2 linked regions of the Homo sapiens genome follow. The protein of the gene in region 1 interacts with the protein of each later gene in a pairwise test. Each region holds a gene or a part of one and is shown on either strand. Other genes may lie near its edges.

Evidence for each region.
Region 2: the proteins of STMN4 (region 1) and PHIP interact in a two-hybrid assay, tested with the Homo sapiens proteins (one large-scale study listed by BioGRID and IntAct).

The regions. Positions count from the first base shown.
Region 1 is NC_000008.11:27,234,596-27,238,221, reverse strand, and holds the end of STMN4 (stathmin-4), read left to right. Parts: intron 1-1,316; coding exon 1,317-1,376; 3' UTR 1,377-2,914; downstream 2,915-3,626. UniProt on the Homo sapiens protein: Exhibits microtubule-destabilizing activity.
Region 2 is NC_000006.12:79,012,102-79,015,928, reverse strand, and holds part of PHIP (PH-interacting protein), read left to right. Parts: intron 1-145; coding exon 146-299; intron 300-712; coding exon 713-847; intron 848-3,827.

The sequences.
Region 1 (3,626 bases):
AAAATTAAAAAATACAGATACTTGGAACCTTCCCCAGAACACTAATCCTGGCTGTCTAGGGATGGTGCTTCCTAGGTCATGCTGATACATACCAAAGTTTGGGAACCCCTGCCCTGTGCACACCACTCCTCACTCCTAGGCCACAGAAAGTTCTAGGGTGTCTGCAGGGACAGATTCGTAGTTTATAGTTTATCCTGAAAACCTGGGGGCCTCCGTGGGTCTACTTCAGGCTGATTCTGTCATCTGGATGTGACAGTGCCAGGCTCTGGGAGGGACAACATTGGTTGAGTGCTTGCCATGTGTAAGGCACCATAGTAGAAAAGATAATGTGGTCCCTACCCACAGGAAAGTCACCGTCTAATAGAGAACTGTCTAATAGAGAATCTGCACAGTGAGCAGGTGAACACTAAACATCACAACTTGAGGGGTGAAAGACCACCTGTCTATGCCCTTCTCTTTAAAGATCAGAGAACTGAGGCCTGGTTGGAGAAGTGAGCCAGCCAAGATCCTCCTGCAGATGGGCCTTGGAAGGCAGATGCTATCTTTTGGCTGCACTACCCTGTGAAATAAAAGAAGGTTCTCTTATAATAGGTGTAAGAAAGTCCACTTTTTGGAGTTGGGCAACATTTTCAAAATTCTTCTGTCGATTTGCACTTTAAGAGTCCACACCTGGGCACGGTGGCTCACATCTGTAATCCCAGCACGTTGGGAGACAGAGGTGGGAGGGTCATTTGAGGCCAGGAGTTAGAGGACAGCCTGGGCAACATAGCAAGATCCCATCTCTATTTTTGTTTAAATAATAACAAAGGAAAATCAAAGAATCCTCATCTTTCACCAAGAGGGTTAAGGCAATTCTCACAAAGGAGATGGATGAGAACTAGAAGCAGCAGGCAGGTGCATGTGATTTGTAGGGGATGCTTGTAGTGAGGCCTGTCTGTTCTGCCTGCTCCTCTGGCACAAATTACCCCCAGCAGCTCCTTATATTAAGTCAAGCCATATGATCTAATCCAAACCACAGAATGGCCAGGTGAGGGAGGGGGAGGCTGCGTGGCCCATGGTCACTGTAAGGTGGGCCCCTGCTGCAGTTTGACACCCACAGGACCCTGAGCTCCCTGGGGCAGCACCAGTAGGCTTGCCCCCTGCCTCCTGCCAGCCTCACCTGCCACCTTCTGCCCCTCTCGGGATGCCTTTGCAGACAGAGCTCTTCGCTGCCTGTGGTGGCCACTCTTTGCTTTTGGTTCTCTTGCCCCTTGGCCTCCCTTTTTGTCCCCGGGCAGCCTTGTGTGACCTGCCCTTTTCCCTCCCTTCCTTTCCAGGACAAGCACGCCGAGGAGGTGCGGAAAAACAAGGAGCTGAAGGAAGAGGCCTCCAGGTAAAGCCTAGAGGCCAAAGAACTTTCCAGGTCAGCCGGACAGCTCCAGCAGCTCCACGTTCCAGGCAGCCTCGCCCGCCGGCTGCGCTCCCAGCACTGGGGTTTGGGGGGAGGGGGGTGGCCAAGGGGCGTTTCCTCTGCTTTTGGTGTTTGTACATGTTAAGAATTGACCAGTGAAGCCATCCTATTTGTTTCCGGGGAACAATGACGGGGTGGGAGAGGGGAGAGGAGAGAGTTTGGGAAAGGGAGATGGAGAAGAACTCAAGGACATTGCAACCCTGCCCGGCGCAGATCTGATTTTCACATCTCTACCTGGACATTGAGCCTCCAGGCACCATGTTGAGGAGAGATGAAAACCAGGGCGGTAGAACTTCAGGGTGAAGGACAGAGTCCTGGGTGGGGCAGCGGCTGCAGGGCGCACCAGAGAACCCAGCCAGAGGGGTTGTGAGTACCAGTGGTGTTGCTTCCACCCTGCAGCAGGTGGGATGAGGTCTGTGTGTGTGTGTGAACCATCATTTTTTGATCATCATGACCAATGAAACATTGACTCCAAGTGTCCAGTTCTTTATTTCCCAAATGTGTCCTTTGGGTAATTGTTAAAAAGTTCTCGAAACCTGGCTTTCATCCATCTGATGGCAGATGCCCCTTTGCTTCCTTAATTCTGCCATTCAAGCATCTGGAGCCTGGGTGAGGTGGGTTGAATCAGGCCAGCCTTTGGCATAATTGAAAGGTTTTCTCTTCTGTTTTTTAAAATCCCCTCTGTGGGCTAATCTTTATTGGATAGCATGCACTAAATTGATGAGAAAAGAAACTCAATCTTCCTTTCAATGAACTGACATCCTAATATGGTCCCCAAGATGCACTGTAAGAAGGAATTTGTCTTAGTCACAACCGTTCAGACTGCTGTAACAAAATACCTTAGACTAAGTAATTGATAACAGAAATTGATTGCTCACAGTTTTGGAGGCTGGGAAGTCCAATATCAAGGTGCCAGCAGATTCAGTGTCTGGTGAGGGCTTGCCATCTGCTTCAAAGATGATGCCTTTTTGCTGCATCCTCACATGGCAGAAGGGAAGGGCAAAAGGGCTTCCTTGAGCCTTTTCTTTAAGGCACTAATCCCATTCATGAAGGTGGAGTCCTCATGATCTCACCTCTTAAGGCCCTATCTCTTAATTCTGTAGTGTCGGGATTAGGATTCAACCTGTATATTGGGGGAGACAGCAACATTCACACCATAGCAGAAGTCCTCCATGCTTTGGGGGTTTGAGATTCTAGGTAGATTAGAAAATACGAGCAAGGAAATAAAGTGTTTGCTAGTAGAAGGCAAAGGAGGCATCCAGACCCAGCAGTCTTGGTCTCCAGGACACTGAACCATGGCTGGAAAAGAAGCTCTCCTCCTCCCTTCCCCTGCAAACATGAGTGCAGGGGCTGCCTGTGTTAACCGGGTCCCAGGACCTCTTCCCACTCTGCTCTGCACACTGTGTAGTTTTTTACAGCTTTGCAAATAAACCCTTTGGTATAGCCTTTTTTTCTTTCTTCTCACTAGTGGTACTGTAATTTGGCTTTATTTTAAAATAAGATAACAGGAGGATCAAAGATGATGATGATGATGATGATGATGATGATGATGATGATGGCAGCAGCTAACTTAGGCAGCACTTACTAGATGTCCTACACTTTTCTGTACTTTTACATCTATATTATCTCACTTATCTTCACACCACCTGTAGGAGGTAGGTACTCTTATCATCCCATTTTGTAGACAAAAGAATTGAGGTCTAGAAAGGGTAAGTAACTTGGCAAGGTCACACAGGGAGTAAATGGGAGAACAGGGACTTGAATTGGGCGGTTTGCTCCCAGAGTCCATATTCTTAGCCACTGGAGTGTGCTGCTTCTTGACACCTCCAAACTAGCATCTGAGTCCCAGAATAGGGTTTCTCAAGCTGTGAGTGGTGACTCACTGGATCTTGAGATCAACGTAGTGGATCCCACCCAACCTTTCTTTTCTTTTTTAAGTGGATTAGAATAGAAAAACAAAACATCAAAATGGGTGACAGGTGATAATGGAGGCATTATTTCATGGAAATTGTGTTTCAATTTTATATTTTGTGTATATATGTGTTGATCGCAGCATAAAGTGCATTTCTTATGGGGGGTGGCAGTCAAAACCCTTTGAAGGTTACTGCCTTAGAATCAACATGGAGACAGAGCCAGGACATCCAGGCTGCAGCCCAGGAGGCTTTAGGAAGCTGCT
Region 2 (3,827 bases), on another chromosome or scaffold:
ATTCCATGTTGATTCAAACTTCTCAGTTACTGTTAAGTGATAGTTATTATGTTAGTGAATATAAATACTAATTATAGATTATATGTTTTGGTTTTTGTTGTGTCAGTATTTTAATAGTCAGTGTAAAACACTTCCTCACTTTCAGCCAAAACCTTCAAGGAATAGAAGATAAAATCACAAAAATGAAGGTTACTATGGTAGCTTGGGATCGACATGACAATACAGTTATAACTGCAGTTAATAACATGACTCTGAAAGTTTGGAATTCTTACACTGGTCAACTAATTCATGTCCTGATGGTGAGAAAAAATTCTAATCTTTATTTGATATAACTGAAGCTGACTATAGAATGAAACATTCTCATTGAGGAATAAAGTCTTTTATGTTAGCTAAAAACTCTTGCTTGCTGGGGTAACGGCTTTGTGAGTGATTGGGAATAATTTTAACAGTGCAGTTAAACAGGTTTGGCTTGGAAATATATAGTAGATATTTGCTGTTTTTTTAATATGAAAAGATCCATCCACCAAGCCCTGGACAATGATATTAGCTCAGTTTCATTATTATATATACATGACAAATTTGAAGATTTTTGCCAATTTAATACTTCTTAAAACTCCATTTCTAGAAATAGTGCCATATTGGTATTTCATTATGTTTGTTTTTCTTTCTTTTTTAATATCTATGATTCTTTGACACTTCAAAAATATTTCAGGGTCATGAAGATGAGGTATTTGTTCTTGAACCACACCCGTTCGATCCTAGAGTTCTCTTTTCTGCTGGTCATGATGGAAACGTGATAGTGTGGGATCTGGCAAGAGGAGTCAAAATACGATCTTATTTCAATATGGTAATTATCATTCTCTTCATTTTATACCTACTAAAGATTTGGGAGCTTTTTGACAAAGGTACTCTGCATGTCACAAAGGAAATCCATTTAAAAATTGGTTCATTATTTTGACTTTAAATTCCCATCAATAAAGAATGATTTATTCCACACTTTTATTGACATGCTGAATTTAAAAGAAAATTAATTGTGCATATTACAGTGCCTGTACATTGTGATAACTGATACAGTTTTATCAGTTTTAGCAGTGAAACTTTGGAAATTCACAAGTATGAAGATACAATATAGAGAAGAAAAAATACTTGGAAAACCATGTGAAGAAATTATAAATAAATACTCGTATTATTGTACTTGTTTAATAGTCTTCTAGCACAATAGAATTTTACTCAAGTACACTGATTTTAAAATTAAGGCCAAAGAATCAAGCATTTCTTGCTTTTAATCAATTGGTAGTATATTAAATATTTGAGTTTATACTCTTCTCTTCACATTTTGTTTCTTAGATGTTAACATAATTGGCCAAGTATTTGAATTACAATGTTTTAATATATCACATACAACTTACCGAGCAGTGTTTCTATTTACTGTATGAAGTATTAAGGTCTCCTCAACTACTGCAGTTTGTGTAGTCATATTTTTTAAATGTCTACTTTCTGTATATTAGAGATACCTTTCAACAAAGAACAAAAGAAAAAACAGTTTCCACTATTTCAGCATGTTTAAATTTTTTTAAAAAACCAATTATAGAAATCTTTAGTAATGAACCATAAAACAATACAATTAGTACATGTGGTCAGAATTATTTTGCCAAATAAATTATTTCACAAAACAGTTGTGAAACATGGTTTGTGAAAAAATTACACGAATGTGATGCTATGCTTGATTGATAATCAGAGTAAAGTTATTTCTATGTCGTGAGTAAGCAGATATAATAGCAGATTTTTTAGTGAGGGAAATAGCTTTAGCTATCTTTAAGGCTGTGCCTTAGAATACATTAGGTAAGAAATAAGGTTTGTAAAACCCTCTATTTCTAGAAAACAGTGTTAATTATTTGGTGTGCACTTGTTAGTGATGGATGGATTTCCTTTGTGATTGTATTGAGATTTTTTTAAAAAGCCACCTGTAAATATGCTAGTAAAAAATATTTTCTGCTTTTCTATCCTTGTGTTTCTGATTTGCTCCTTTTTGGAATATCTGTTGAATAAGGAAATTAGTCATTTCTCAATCTGTCTTTATAGCTTAAAAAAAATAATATGTGAGCTATATATATACTAGTGGCTTCATTTAGTAGTTTTGTATTTCCAAAGGACATTATTATATTGGTAGAGTGTTTGGAGGGAAACTTTTCTCCCATAATTGAATACCGCTTTAACTTTTCAGTTATATAAAGGTGAATTTTCCCTTATCAGGTAAGTTGGTCACACTAATATTCTACCTTTTCAGTAGATAACAAAAACTGCAGCACCTTGAGAGTTAAGTGATTTGCTCTTAGACCATTAAAAATTAGTAATGTAACCAGGAGTAGAAGTCAGCCATAATATATTGTATATTTTTAAAAATTAGCTGAGGGATTGGTTACATTACTGCCTTAAAAATTGTTTATTGTTAAATAAGAGTGTTAGATGAGGATATTTTTCTGGTTCTTTTTATGGATAAGAGATAGGAAAACTCTAAAGAGCAGAAGAAACAAATACATGTAATAAGTTGAATTGGATAGTATTCATAGAATTGCAGACAGTGAGCAAAACATAAACCAAAAAAGCTAAAAAACAGAAAGTGAGCCACCCTTCATCTCATTAAAATAAAGATACTACCTTTAATTTTTTGTATGATGTTTAATGGTTTCCAAAATGCTCCCACATATTTTACCTCCTTTGGGTCTCATGAAAACCTTGTAAGATGATCAAGATAGATTTTATTATTCTTGGTCTTAGGAATGGAGAAACTGTACATTACAGAGATAAAGTGCTTTGCCCCAATTTACTGAGTTCACACAGCTATTATGCGGGCACTTGGAGCATAAACCCATGACTCTGGTTGTACTCAAATCTTGTCATGGTTGGCTTTTTGAGCTTTTGTCAATGTTACTGCATAGCTAACTTTTAACAATACTCAGTTAGTGATATGTCTATGAAGAAATGTTTTCATAATGGTAATAAATCTGAGTGGATCTTTTGACATCTTACTCTTTAACTTGATTTTTTTTCCTGTCTGTCTTTTATGAGTTATCTAATTGCCCTAATTCTTTTTGCTCTTCACTCTTTTGTTCTTTTCATTGCTTGTTTTATTTATGGGCAAATGGAAGATAAAGCATCCAGCATTGCTATTAAGAAAATAAAGAGAAACAATTCGAGGGAGGGCCTGCGTTCTCACTGCTTGCTATCATGAATGTTGAGTTTTGGCTATAATTATAGCTATTTGGCTCTCTGTAGCTAATCAATAAGTTTTTCAGTTACTAAAATACCACGATACTTGATTGCATACAAATTTAATCCCTAATGTTAAGTTGTAGTAGTAATCACAAGTTCAGTTTAGTAAATATTTTTTGAGCACCATGTGAAGGGTCTAGTCATATATAGTGCTTTGGTCTATTAGAGGATGAAGAATTCTGGTGGAATACTCCTTTTTTGACTAGAAATGGTGAAAGTTATGTGAAGTATTTTTAAGATTAAATAATATTTCATGTGACTGTTAAAACTGAAGTTTATAAAACAGATAAGTAAACTCACCATTCCACCTACAGCTAGAAAATAAGGAATGTAGACTATACCTTTAGAATAACAGTTTTAGTACAAATTTCTTAAATACTGGTTTTTATCAAGTATATTTTAAGAATACTTTAATATTTCTCCTGCTTTTTGAATAATAATTGAATTTTCCATTGGAAATTTATACCTTTGCAAAAGATAATGGAAATCATGTAACATATAATTTAGTATTTTGTATTCATCAGCATTTTACTGCATTTTTTGTGTAATTATGG